Homo sapiens: one gene and its partner. The protein of the gene in region 1 interacts with the protein of each later gene in a biochemical or structural test. Each region holds a gene or a part of one and is shown in the gene's direction. Other genes may lie near its edges.

Region 1 (7,704 bases):
GGAAGAATCTGAACACCAGACCAGCCTTGCTGGGTTCTCCCAGTCAGTTCTTTTCAAAGACAAAACACAAAGTCACATTTATTAGAGTTGTCCACAGTCAGCAATGGTGACCTTCTTGCTGGTCTTGCCATTTCTGGACCCTCATGCCTTCTTTCATCTTGCCAAAGACCACATGCTCGCCATGCAACCACTGAGTCTTGGCAGTGCAGATGCCAAACTGGGAACCGTACGTGTTGGTCCAGCATTTGCCTTGGACAACATGCCGGGACCTGTATGCTTCAGGCTACAGTTTTCATCATCAAATTTCTCCCTGTAGATGGACTTGCCACCAGCGCCATTACGGCGTGTGAAGCCACCACCCTAACACATAAGCCCTGGAATAATTCTGTGAAAGCAGGAACCCTCATGACAAAATCCTTTCCCTCCAGTGCTCAGAGCATGCAAGTGTTCTGCTGTCTTTGGAATCTTGTCTGCAAACAGCTCGAAGGGCTGTTTGATGGCCCCAGGGCTTGCCATTGACGGCCATGTTGAAGAACATGGTGGGATTGACCATGGCTGGTAGCAGGGGGTTCTGGGGGGCGTCAGCATCTGCAAAGCCCCCAGTGAGTTCTGCTAGCATAAGAGCATACCCATTTTGTCCAATCGTATTTCTACATAACTGTCCATACTTCGTTGAACCTAAGCATACAAATGGACAGTTTTCCCTGTATCTTTGAGTCTTCACGTGTCACGTGAAACTGTGATCAAATAAATTTGTTTATCTTTTCTCCTATTAATCTGCCTTTTGTCAGTGATTTTCAGCAAACCATCAGAGGGCTAAGGAGAAGCTTTCCTGTGGCCCCTACAATAATAAACTACAAAAAGGGCAGAAATGGAAGTGTTATCCAGGAGTTTTCATAGCATTTTTTTTAGAGTCTGCTCTGCAACTGGTTTGTGCCACTTTCAGCAAATTCCATTTAAAAGAAAAATCAGCGGGCCGGGGGCGGTGGCTCACGCCTGTAATCCCAGCACTTTGGGAGGCCGAGGTGGGCGGATCACGAGGTCGGGAGATCGAGACCATCCTGGCTAACACGGTGAAACCCCATCTCTACTAAAAATACAAAAAATTAGCCGGGCGTGGTGGCAGGCGCCTCTATTCCTAGCTACTCGGGAGGCTGAGGTAGGAGAATGGCATGAACCCGGGAGGCGGAGCTTGCAGTGAGCTCAGATCGCGCTACTGCACTCCAGTCTGGGTGACAGGGCAAGACTCCGTCTCAAAAAATAAAAAATAAAAGAAAAATCAGCATTTATAAAACAGCCACATTTGAGGGGTGATTACTGCTTTTTTTTTTGAAAAGGATTCACTATAGCACATTTCCCCTGTGCAATACAATTTCATTATTTTTTAAATGTCAAAAGCAGTCTATGCTATTAGAAAACAAGCAAATGACACAAAGAAGTGTGTAAGTCAAAGTGAAGGGCCTCCCTTTAGCTCTCCTCTGTTTCTGCCCTCTGGAGGCAAGCTCTGATAATAATTTGGGGAGCATCCTTCTGGAGACCCTTTTCTATGAGCCATTCACTGATATAGTTATATGTTTTATTTACATTCAATTCTACTTAAAAATGATAATCACAGGCCGGGCACAGTGGCTCACACCTGCAATCCCAGCACTTTGGGAAGCCGAGGCGGGCGGATCACCTGAGGTCAGGAGTTCGAGACCAGCCTGACCAACATGGAGAAACTCCGTCTCTACTAAAAATACAAAATTAGGCGGGCGTGGTGGCACACACCTGTAATCCCAGCTACTTGGGAGGCTGAGGCAGGAGAATCGCTTGAACCCGGGAGGTGGAGGTTGCGGTGAGCCGACATCACGCCATTGCACTCCAGCCTGGCCAACAGGAGCAAAACTCCATCTCAAAGAAAAGAAAAGAAAAAAAGTGATAACCAGAATGTGTATCTTGTTTTATGACATGGTATCTTTTTCTTTTTTTTTGACATGGTGTCTTTTTTCCCTCCTATTGCATTCTTTTCATAGTAAACTTTAAAGTCTTATTTACATGGTTTTTAACTAAACTTTTTAGTTTAAAACAACTGTAGATTCACATGCAGTTGTGAGAAATAATACAGATCCTGTGTACACTTTCTTCCGATGACAACACCTTGCAAAACTGTAATACTGCAACCAGGATGTTGATATTTATAAACAATCGACTGATCTTTTTCAGATTTTCCCAGTTTTACTTGTACTCGTGCGCGCGTGCATGCGTGTGTGTGTGTGTGTGCGTTGTTTTTGTTTTTGAGACAGGGTCTTGCTCTGTCGCCCAGGTTAGTGGGCAGTAGCAGTGGCAGGATCATGGCTCACTGCAGCCTCCAACTCCCAGGCTCAAGTGATCTTCTCACCTCAGCCTCTCACCTACCTGGGCCCACAAGTGTGAGCCACCATGCCTGACTCATATATATATATATATTTTTGTAGAGACCGGGTCTTCCTATGTTGCCCGGCTGGTCTCCAACTCCTCGGCTCAAGTGATCCTCCTGTCTGGGGTTTCCAAATTGTTGGGATTACAGGTGTGAGTCAGAGCACCCAGCCAAGTTCTATACAATTTTATCATGTTTAGTTTGTGTTCTCACCACCACAGGCAAGATACAAAATGGTTCCTCATCACTCTCCTGTTGCATTTTAAATAACACAATTTACCGTGTTCAATACCATGTATTTCTCCAGGTGAGGTATACATGTGACAGGCTCCAAAAGGCTTTTAAACACCACAGTAGTGCTGCCCAAGAAAATTCAAGGGCCACGAATGAAAGTTGCCTATGAAATTAGACATTTCTCAGGAGCCAAAGGTAAAAGAGACCAATTTAAATAATATATTTCAGAAAACCGAATATATCCAAATATCCTCATTTCAACATGTAATCAATATAAAAAGTATGAATGATATGCTACTTTTCTCGTACGAAGTCTTTGCAATCCAGTGAGCCCAGTCCTCTGGCAGCTGTTAGCATGGACTGAGTACCTCCTATGTGTCTGACTCTGATCCAGGCACTGAGACACAGATCAGCTCCTGCCCTTTAAGAACACAGGCCAATGGAGGACAAGCACAGTTCTACAACATGAGACAGGCCACGGTAGAAGCAAGCAAAGGAGGCCTGGGAACACCTGGCTAGTAGGGAAGGCTCTGTGGGGGCTTGGCCTCAAAGCCCAGGGACAGCAGGGGGACCAGTCAGAAGGAGCCCCAAGTGTCTGGGTGGGAGCGATGGTGTTCCCTGAGATGGGAACCAAGAGGAGAGGCACTTTGGAGGGAAGGCCCAGTGTGGTTTGGGGATATCCAATAAAAGATGGCCCCTCCTCAAAGTTAGTGGATGCTAGGCTCTGGGATGCAGGGGAGGGTTCTGGGCTTGCTATTGAGGTTTCCCTGGAGGTTGATGTCACTGGGGGCATGGAGATTACTCAGGCCAGAAGGTGTGTGGGAAGCATGGGGTGTGGGGTACAGAGTACACCACATGGAGAGCCAACATCAGGGGGATTCCCAAGGGAGAAAGACAAGCCAGGGATCATCCAAGGAGGCAAGACGGGAGGAGTGCAGGGATCTGTGGACCCACCCAGCCCCTTCTGTTCTGAGGTTACAATGGGTGATGGCTCTGTGGGGCTGCAATGAGTGGCGGCACGCGCGGAGGGCCAGGGGAGGAGGGACATGCTGTGGGCTCCGGGTTCAGGTCCCAGGACTGAATTGGAAGCACCCTGTCTGTGTTGAAGTTCAAGATCTACCACTTCTGTTCCCAGACCTCCCAGTTCTTCCTCACCTTTATGCAATTTCATTTTTGATAATTTCAGCTTCCTAAATGTACACATCTGACTTCACTTTCACTCACATGTCTCACCCCCACCCCTCCACCGGCCCCTTCTATTACAGACCCAGGAGACACAGGAAGTGCAAGGAAGGTCTGGAGCCCCAAAAGCCAGGAGCCTCAGGAGTCAGGTGTCCTGACAGCCAGGAACCCTGACACCCAGGAGCCCTGGCACCCAGGAACCCCAACAGCCAGAAGCCTCTACCACCAGGAGCCCTGACAGCAAGGAACCCCGACACCCAGGAGCCCCTACTACAGCCAGGAAGCCAGGAACCCTAACACCAGGAGCCCTGACACCCAGTCACCCCGACAGCCAGGAAGCCAACAGCAAGAAGCCTCTACCACCAGGAGCCCTGACAGCAAGGAACCCCGACACCCAGGAGCCCCTGCTATAGCCAGGAACCCTAACACCCAGGAGCCCCTACAGTCAGGAACCCCGACACCCAGGGGTCCCGACAGCCAGGAACCCCGACACCCAGGGGTCCCGACAGCCAGGGGCCATTACGGCCAGGAGCCCCGACAGCCAGGGACCTCGACGGCCAGAATCCACTACATCCAGAAGCCCTTATAACCGGGAACCTCCATAGCCAGGAGCCCCTACAGCCAGGAGCCCCTTCAGCCAGGGAGCCCCGAAAGCCAGGAGCCCCGACAGCCAGGAACCATAACAGCCATGAACCCCGGGAGCCAGGAGGCCCGCAGCGGAGTGCCCAGACTTGGCAGGGTCAGAGCCCCCCAGCGGGATCCAGAGCCCGCCGCCGAGGCCCCTTTTGGGATTTCTCAGGCTCGGCAGCCTCAGCGCAGGCAGGGGCGGGGCTTTCCCTCGCGCAGCCGCTCAGCTCCCCGTGGCCCCGCCCACATCCGGCCGCCGGCACTGGATTGCTTCTGTCTGGCGGCGGCAGCATGGCGGCGGGGGCGGCTGAGGCAGCTGTAGCGGCCGTGGAGGAGGTCGGCTCAGCCGGGCAGTTTGAGGAGCTGCTGCGCCTCAAAGCCAAGTAAGCGGGGCGGCGAGCGGTAGGAGTGAGGAGCCGGAGCGGGAGCGGCCGCGAGACCGGGCCGGTGTGGGGCGGCGGGTGGCCCAGCCTGGCTTCTTGGTGCCCGGCTCCCTTCGGCCTCGGGGGACCGGGCCCGGCGCCACCCGTAGACTCCCCCGAGCCTCCGCGTGAGTGGCCCGAGCCGCAGGTTCCCCGCCCCGGAACAGCGAGCAGGGCGCGAGGCTCGCCTGGAAGCCCCGGCCCCAGCCCTGGCTCCGACCCCGACGGCTGTCCAAGCCCGGGGGACGCGACCTTCCCGGCCTCTGGCCTGGGCGGCCCCGCCGCGGGACGGAGGCGGTGGTGACTCAGCCGTGCCGCAGTGGCGGGGCGGGGGACGGGGCGGCGCCGAGACCCCGGCCCTCCGCGCCACGGAGCGGGACCCACGGCTGCGGGCTCCACCTTTCCTGTGCCCGCCGGGAGGGAGCGGCAGGCTCGGCGTCGGCCCATTGCTCTTCAGCCTCCCTTCAGGAACGCCCCTGTCGCAGGAAGAGCGGCGAGGGAAGGCCCCGTTGCATTAGCTAGGCCTGGCTGCCTTTTGAAGTCAGCCTTTAAAGTTTGTTGGACAGCAGGTAGCCTCAGTCTTCAGACTTAACCTGTTGCCGGAGACAGAGATTTCCTGTTCCATGAACTGGTGTAGTGAGAGTCTGTTCAGATTTGGCGCCGGTGTCCAGGTCTTCAATCCCTGGGAAGACTACAAAAGGAGATCCAGAGGAATGCATAGAAAGCGTTTTCTGGGTGGACTAGAAGCTCTGAACTGCAAGCATGCTTACGAGTAAATGCTTACTAGCGTGCGTGCCTGCAGGGAAAGGTCTGCACGTGGACTCTCCGTGATAATACCACCTCACATTGTAGACTACTCCAAGGACTGAGTTGTTCTCTTAGTTGTATTATTAGCGGTTGTTATGGGAACTCTTATGTCGGATTGCCTGGGATCCAGTCCCACCGCAGCCACTCAGTAGCCATGTAACCCCTGGGCACGTTTCATGCCCAAGCCTCAGTTTCCCGACGGTGACATAGATTAGCACCTGTTAGTACCTCAGGGTTGTTGTGAGGGTTAAATGAGATGACGTATGTAAAATACAAATAATACAATGCCTAGTATGCAGGAAGCACTCAGTAGATGTTGGCACTTAGTATTTCAGTAGGAAGTAGAATGGTTCATGGAATTCACAGGCAAAAAGCTTTGTTTTGTTTTGTTTTTGAGACAGGGTCTGGCTCTGTCACCCAGGCTGCAGTGTAGTGGAGCGATCACGGCTCCCTGCAGCCTCCGCCTCCCAGGCTCAAGTGATCGACCCACCTCATCCTCCCGAGTAGCTGGGACCACAGGTGCTCACCACCACGCCCGTCTAATTTTTATTTTTTTTTATAGAGACGAGGTCTCGCCATGTTGCCCAGCCTCGTCTCGACCTTCTGGACTCGAGCGATCTGCCCTCCTCAGCCTCCCAAAGGGTTGGGATTACAGGTGTGAGCTACCACGTCCGGCCAGAAATGCTTATTGATCTAAATTTTGTTTTGTTTGTTTTCGAGACAGGCTGTTGCTCTGTTGCCCAGGCTGAGTGCAGTGGCGTGATCTCGGCTCACTGCAGCCTCTACCTCCTGGGTTCAAGCGATCCTCCCACCTCAGCCTCCTGAGTATCTGGGACTACACGTGCGGTCCACCACGCTGGGCTAATTTGTGTATTTTTCGTAGAGGCAGGGTTTCCTCATGTTGCCCAGGCTGGTCTCTGGAACTCCTGAGCTCAAGTGATTCGCCTGCCTCGGCCTTGTAAAGTATCGGGATTACAGGCTTGAGCCCCCGTGACCTGCCCTGTTGATCTAAATTGAGTGAAATTTTGCCGACTGAATTTGAATTAGAGGCAAGTAGTACTCTGATTTTGCAATGGAGAGTGCAGGTGAGATGGGGTGTTGCCTTTGGAAATGGGGAGGGGTGCGAGTTACTGACTAATGGTTAGAAATGCTTTATGGGGGTGATGAAATTAAAGTGTTATTTAAACAGCTCTTTAGGCATTTCAGGTTTACCTGGGAAATTGTTACGGAAAAAAGCAGGGGTTGGGGAGGGACATGTGACATTTACTCACTGATGGAAGCTGGGCTCTGACTCATCCAGTACAGATCAGCACAATCACAGGAGTCACCAGAAGTGGCCTCTTGAAATGAGCAGGTCTTGTGTGGACCTGCCCTAAGTAAACGTTTTGAATTTACCATCACCTGAAAGGCTGTTTTGTCTGTTTTACATGTTTGTTTTAAATGCTTCATGTTTTAAAAAGTCCTTAAACTATCAAAATGAATAAAAGTGTTTTTTTTTTTTTTTTTTTTTGGGGGGGAGACAGAGTCTCTCTCTGTTGCCCAGGCTGGAGTAGAGTGCAGTGACACAATCTTGGCTCACTGCAACCTCTGCCTCACGGGTTCAAATGATTCTCCTGCCTCAGCCTTCTGAGTAGCTGGGATTACAGGTGCCCGCCACCACGCCTGGCTAATTTTTGCATTTTTAGTAGAGATGGGTTTCACCATGTTGGCCAGGCTGGTCTTGAACTCCTGACCTTAGGTGATGGGCCCGCTTCCCAGCGTGCTGGGATTACAGGCATGAGCCACTGCGCCCGGCCAAAATGGATAAAAGTTTAAATGTAAGTACCATTTGGATGTTGTATCCTTGCCGCTGGCCTGTACTTGAAATGGCCCAGGAAACAATGTGCACTTTCCTTAGTGACTAGTTCAAACGGACACGTGATAAATGATGTGTGGCATCTGGGGAAGGAGCACATTTCTGCAGCTTTTTTGGTGAAGATGGAGACATTTAAGAATATTAGGCCGGGCGCGGTGGCTCACGCCTGTAATCCCAGC
Region 2 (7,030 bases), on another chromosome or scaffold:
TTTGCTGCTTGTACCTTCAGAAGCTATGGCCTGAGCCATACTTGAGCCCCTTCAAGCTATGGGGTGACCAAAGAGCACTGCCTTGGAATAGGGGGAGCAAAGTGCTGAAGTGGCCCTGGACAGTGAATGTAGAGGTCCCATGGGTGCTACTCTGGAAACCTTGCCCTCAAGGTCTTAGCTATGTCTTGAAGATCTCTGAAATGCCTTTGTGGTCATTATCCCATTGTCTTGGTGAATAGAACCTGCCTTCTCTTCCCTATTAATCTCCTTAGCAATTAGTCACTTAGCTACATCCTTAATATTCTCTCTCAAACATGCTTTTTTATTTTATATATTTTTTGAAGAGACAAGGACTTGCTATGTTGCCCAGGCTGGTCTTGAACTTCTGGGCTCAAATGATCCTTCCACCTCAGCCTTCGAAAGTGTTGGGATTACAGGTGTGAGCCACCACACCCAGCCTGCTTTTTTTTTCTTTACATGGCCAGGCTGAGAGTTTATAAATGTTTCTGTTTTGCTTTCCTTTTTAATTACAAATTTCACCTTTAGATCATTTCTCATTTTATGATAAGCAGCCAGAAGAAGCCATGCATCACTGTGAATGCTTTGATGCTCAGATATTTCTTCTGCCAGGTATTGGATTCATTGCTCTTAACTTCTGCCTTCCACAAAGTCCTAGGGCATGGACACAGTCCTGCTAAGTTCTTCACAACTGTATTGCAAGGATGGCTTTTATTTATTTATTTAATTTATTTTTTTGAGGCAAGGTCTCATTCTTGTCACCCAGGCTGGAGTGCAGTGGCACAACCTCTGCTCCCTCACACCCTCTCCTTCCCTTTTGCTGTGAGACGATTCAGCATGAAGGCCCTCACCGGATGCCGGCACCATGCCAGTGATCCTTCCACTTCAGCCTCCCGAGTAGCTGGGACTACAGGCACATGCCACCACACCCCGCTAGTTTTTGTATTTTTTGTAGAGATGGAGTTTCACCATGTTGCCCAGGCTAGTCTCGAATTCCTGAGCTCAAGTGTCCACCCACCTCAGCCTCCCATGCTGCTGGAATTACAGGCATGAGCTACCACACCTGGCCTGGCTTTTTTTTTTTTTCTTTTAAAGACAGGGTTGGTCTCTGTCACCCAGGCAGTGCAGTGGCATGATCATAGCTCACTGCAGCCCAAAACTCCTAGGCTCAATTGATCCTCTTGCCTCAGTCCCCTAAGTAGCTAGAACTGCAGGTACACGCCACCACACCTGGCTAATTTATTTTCTGTAGGGATTGGGTCTCACTATGTTACCCCGGCTGGTCTTGAATTCCTGGCCTCAAGTGATCCTCCTGCCTCAATCTCAAAGTGCTGGGATTACAGGCATGAACCATCACACCCTGCCAACAGGGATAGCTCTTACTCCATTTTCCAATAACTTCTCATTTCTGTCTGAGACCTCACTGAATGAGACCAACCTCATTCTGTCTGAGACCAACATTGTTCTACCAACATTCTGATCACAACCACTTAAGTAATCCTTAAGAAGATAAAGGCTCTGCCTGAAGCTCTTGTCTTCTTTTCAGCCCTCACTGGAATTACCCTCAATGCTCCACTCACACCAATATAGGCTTTTTCTAGCCTGCTCCTCCAGATTCTTCCAGCCTCTCCTCGTTACCCAGTTCCAAAGTCATTTCCACATTTTCAGGTATTTATAGCAATAGTCCCGTTTCTGAGTACCAACATTCTGTCTGAGTCCATTTTGTGCTGCTATAACACAATACCACAGACTAGGTGACTGACTGATGGATTAATTAATTTCTTTTCTATTGCTCAGGCTTCACTAATTTTTAAATTTTTTGTTGAGACAGGGTCTTGCTATATTGCTAGGGCTAGTCTCAAACTCCTGGGCTTAAGCAGTCCTCCCATCTTGGCCTTCTGAAGTGCTGGGGTTACAAGCATGAGCCACCGTACCTGACTGGGTGATTTATAATGAACAAAAATTTATTTGGCTCCTGTTTCTGGAGACTGGGAAGTCCAAGAACATGGTGCCGGCATCTGGTGAGAGCCTTCATGCTGAATCGTCTCAGCAAAAGGGCAGGAGAGGGTGTGAGGGAGCAAGAGATTGAATTTATAGCCTCAGGCCCTTTTATAATCAGTATTAATCCATTTGTGAGGATGGAGCCCCCATGACCTAAATACCTCCCATTAGGCCCCAGCTCACACCACTATTGCATTGGGGATTGAGTTTCTAGCACATGCTTTTGGGGGGGCCTATTCAAACTATAGCACTTACCTAGCTAATTCTACATCTGATGTAAACATTTTAAGTTGCTATGTAATATGGATTCCATTTTTAGGCTTTACTGTGCATAACTTACATCTAGACTTTAGTAGTTTTTCTTTCACAAGATGTTGAAAGTTCACAGTAAATAAAAAACATTCGCCTAATTTTTGTATGTTTATACTAGATCATGCTTTACGATTATGGAATATCCAGACGGACACTCTGGTGGCAATATTTGGAGGCGTAGAAGGGCACAGAGATGAAGTTCTAAGTGCTGTAAGTTGGAAACTGCAGGGCAATGACTTTCAGGTTTACATAGCTGTGAACAGTCTCCATGGAACTGTTTCCTTATAAGAAAGTGTGTTTCATGTAGCCTGTCAGGCAGACATTCACTTACATTTGACATAGAAGATTTTAATCTCCAGATGAAGGAATAAAACAAGTAAAGACTATATTTATTTATTTATTTTTTAAATTACTTGCACTGTATACCAATCCCTGGAGTCTTATGAGAGCAGTATGATCTTGCTCCTTTCCTTTTAATCTAAAATCACTAAGTTAATGTTTGTTTTGCCATTTCGCAGTTATTAAAGAAAAAAATTAAACTATGTAGCCATTAAAGTGCTTTTCCATCTTTTGTTTGAAGTTGAAACATAACGTTTTTTGCTATTTGGAAGTGTTTTATTGTGCTCACACTGTTTTAGGTAACTTATTTCTAGCCATTCTCTTTGGGTGGCGTGGTATAATACAAGACCAGTTTAAAGATAAATACCACCTTTATATTGATGTATTGTAATCCATTGGTCCATTATACAAGTGTTTTTAGTTAGGTTTCAGATTTTAACATTATTTTTGCTTATGTTCCATATTTAGCTCATTTGATTCCTGTAGTAATTTCACATCTCTTAGGTTGTTTTCCATTAAACTATGTAAAGGGGCACCATATTTTACAGCATGTAACATTTTAGTTGAAGGTACTAAAATATTCCTATGTTGAAGTTTGGATTCCTTTGTGAGAATCATACCTTCCTTCGAATACCTTGTCAACTTGGATTTCCTAAAAGTTGCAGTAGCATTCTACGTCTGGCTTTATGTGTGTAAAAGCCAAGTGAACTGTTCTTTATTAATAACTCCAAATTAGTGGTATTGTCTCGAAGGATGTCTTGTTGCTGTTGACAGTGAGGTAATTAGAAGTACCACAACTGTGAATTCAATAAACATCAAGCCTAAAGTTCTTAGGCTCTTATAAAATGGTGCTCATAATTAATGCAAAGGCTGGATTAACATATAGTATCTAGGTTAGTAAGGAAAATATACTCCTTCAATAGAACTCTCTACTGTTATTTCTTAGAATGAGAGCAGGAGACAGTATGTAGCTCTTCTGTGTAATACAGGAGTTCACTGGAGGTGGATAGGTGTGTGAGATTTTCATTACTCATTATGTGCCTTTTGCTAAATTAAATAGCATCTCTGGGCCTTAGTGTCTGCCTATGAAATGAGGTTGTTACAATAGATGATCTGTTACATGCCTGTTAAAAATTAGTAAACAGCAAATGAAAAAAGTTAAAATCTGTTTTTTATTAGACTTTTAAAAATTCACTTAAAAGTGAACTCTAAAACTAACTTCAAAATATTTTGACTTAGAATTATAAAGTAAGATGTCAGCTCTTTAAGGATTCATGTATTTTCACATGCACATGTCAGTTTCATTGGTTGGTTGAGGTTGGATAGGAAAAGTAATATCACTATTCAGCTCTTTGTGTCAGAATAATTATTTTAACTTAGTATTCAATTTACCTTCAAAATAAGCAAAATAAATATTTTAGTGTAATTGAATAGATAAAACTAAGTTTAAGTAATTTTTTCTTGGTTTATACATTGTAAATGCTCTTATATTCCGATGTTGACAAACTAATTAAAGCTGTAAATCTTGAAAGTAGTAAACTCTGATTTATGGCCTATTTAGATGAAACCCAAAATGTAGTTTGTATTGTGATTTGAAATACAGTTTTCACTATGTTGCACATTAGGCAAAAATTGGATAAATATAATTTGGAGCTGTAATTTATATAAAACTTTTTGGTTTTGCATACAGGATTATGATCTTTTGGGTGAAAAAATAATGTCCTGTGGTATGGATCATTCTCTTAAACTTTGGAGGATCAATTCAAAGAGAATGATGAATGCAATTAAGGAATCTTATGATTATAATCCAAATAAAACTAACAGGTAACAGTTGTGGTATTTGAAACAATTTGCTATGTTGTGCTATTGAATATAAGTTTTATTTTTTCCCAAAATTGCTATATAAGCCCCAACAATGAGTTTAGAAGACCTTCTTTTAACTTTAAGGGACAATTTACATACTGTAAAATTCACCCCTTTAAGAAGTCCTTTATTTGCAGTGTTTGTGGCTTAGTTTTCAAAATCCCCTTTAAATTGTGTTGTCATCTTAACTTAGTAGCACATTTTACTTATTTGTATTTTGGTATGCATATGCTTGGCCTTTTAAGTTATAAATGTAAAAGTTTTAAATCACTTAAGCTTATTATGGACTAGGGAGAGTAAAGGACACTTTAGAATAATGTTAACTTTTTTTAAATGATGCTAATTCTAATTCAAGATGGTAAACCACAGTTTTAAACAATGGAGTTCTTAGCTCTAATTCATGATAATGTTTTTCCCTAAATGATGCTCACTTGATTAAATGGAGAGAATTCAAATGCAGGAGCCTCACTTCATGGTACTATAGGTTGGGGAATTTTGCAGTTTTCTTAGTATATTTTTGAAATGTCTCAATTCTTAATGCAGTAACTGTCTTTAGAATCTTATCAGGCTGTCATTAACACTTTCACTATAAACGTTGTATGTCTGCATGTTAACTTTGTTGGCACTTTTGTTTTAGCAAAGAGCTAGAATTCATTTTCTGGTTATCAAGCCAGATTGTTAATAGATTATTAAATTTGTAAGCATCAGTAAATATTTCAATGCACTAACATTCATCAGACCTAAGTGTCCTCTAAGAATTATTAAAAGTTTTACCTTTCTCCTTTAAAACACCAGGAGCTAGTAGGACAATGTTAAATTTATATTTTTAGATTATTTTCTAGATATCTGGAATAAATACAAACTATATTTCAGAGTTTTCAAAAAATAACAGTTGTACTCGTTTTTTCTTTGAGAGAGGTTTGGCCATACAATTATAGTATGTATTTAGCTAAAAAGCAATTAATATAATTATAGCAGAGTTAAGAATTTATATCAGATCACGAATAACATTTTAATGTTTCAACAAAATATCCCAGAATTTGAATTGGAAGGATTGTTTTGAGTTGCTCCAATCCAAAGTGCTTTTTTACATATCTGAGGGAAAAGGTAAAGAGAGGACATATGAATTGCCTAAGACAACTAATTCATGGCATATTATACTTATACAGCTATTTCTGATTTAAAACTGAGTATATTAGGAATGTTAAGTGTACTGTTAAATAACTCCAGAATTAATAGCAGCTTGTTTTGTTTCTTCTCACAAATATCTCTAATGAAAACAGTGTTGCCATTTAGTTTCCTAAATACAGAAATTATTTGGAAAAGTCCTAGGAAATTTTATTTTGTTCTATTTGTTTTTTTGAGACGGAGTTTTGCTCTTGTTTCCCAGGCTGGAGTGCAGTGGTGCAATCTTGGCTCACTGCAACCTCTGCCTCGCAGGTTCAAGCGATTCTCCTGCCTCAGCCTCCCAAGTAGCTGGATTACAGGCGGCCGCCACCATGCCTGGCTAATTTTTTTTTTTTTTTTTTTTGTATTTTTAGTAGAGATGGGGTTTCACCATGTTGGCTAGGGTGGTCTCGAACTCCTGACCTCAGATGATCCACCTGCCTCGGCCTCCCAAAGTGCTGGGAGCCACCGCACCCACCCCCACTTAAGAAATTTTAAATTCCTGTAAGGCATCATTTTCAGAAATTATTGCTCAAGGCAGGACTGTAGATGTATCTTTAGCAGACTTTGGAATGATGTTTAGTTGTTCCTGGAAAGATGACTATCTTTTGAAATAGTGTAGATATATTGACTTTCATAGATTATTAATGCTTAATTTTAAGGACTGAGTAGGTAGCTTAGTATATTTTCAGTGAGAAACTGATCAGGCCTTTATTATTGGTTAGGGTACCCAGAATTGAGGTGATTAATTTTGGGTTATATATAGTAAAACGCAGGAAACTACAATGTTTATAAACAAAGTATCTATCATAGGACAAAGATAAAATTGGATAATAATGGAGAAAAATAAACAAAAGTGGAATGAGACTTTAGCTTTCAATAAATAGATAAGGTGGTTGGTTATGTAGGAACACAGAGGAATTAATAGTCTTACATTTTGTTTTTCCAAGTTTTATAAATCCAAAAATGAAAAAGAGTATGATTCTACTATAATTTTTTCTTTTAACTTTTTACATTTCCATTCTTCCTTCAGGCCATTTATTTCTCAGAAAATCCATTTTCCTGATTTTTCTACCAGAGACATACATAGGAATTATGTTGATTGTGTGCGATGGTTAGGCGATTTGATACTTTCTAAGGTATGGTAACTGCAGTTAAGCTGTACTTCCATCGTGTGTGTGTGTGTGTGTGTGTGTGTGTGTGTATGTGTGTGCGCATGTTGGAACTTGGCAGGGAGCACTTTATGTAGTTTATTAAATTGAATGGCAGCTGGGAAGTTGCCTTTTTTAAAGTCTCATATTTTGATATATTTAGAAACTTGTTTTAAGAA

The links. The genes of interacting proteins can lie anywhere in the genome.
Region 2: the proteins of GLRX3 (region 1) and EED form a complex in vitro, tested with the Homo sapiens proteins (one study listed by BioGRID).

What each region holds. Positions count from the first base shown.
Region 1 is NC_000010.11:130,131,689-130,139,392, forward strand, and holds the start of GLRX3 (glutaredoxin-3), read left to right. Parts: upstream 1-4,702; 5' UTR 4,703-4,732; coding exon 4,733-4,824; intron 4,825-7,704. UniProt on the Homo sapiens protein: Together with BOLA2, acts as a cytosolic iron-sulfur (Fe-S) cluster assembly factor that facilitates [2Fe-2S] cluster insertion into a subset of cytosolic proteins.
Region 2 is NC_000011.10:86,261,723-86,268,752, forward strand, and holds part of EED (polycomb protein EED), read left to right. Parts: intron 1-2,449; coding exon 2,450-2,541; intron 2,542-4,360; coding exon 4,361-4,494; intron 4,495-6,733; coding exon 6,734-6,839; intron 6,840-7,030. UniProt on the Homo sapiens protein: Polycomb group (PcG) protein. Component of the PRC2/EED-EZH2 complex, which methylates 'Lys-9' and 'Lys-27' of histone H3, leading to transcriptional repression of the affected target gene.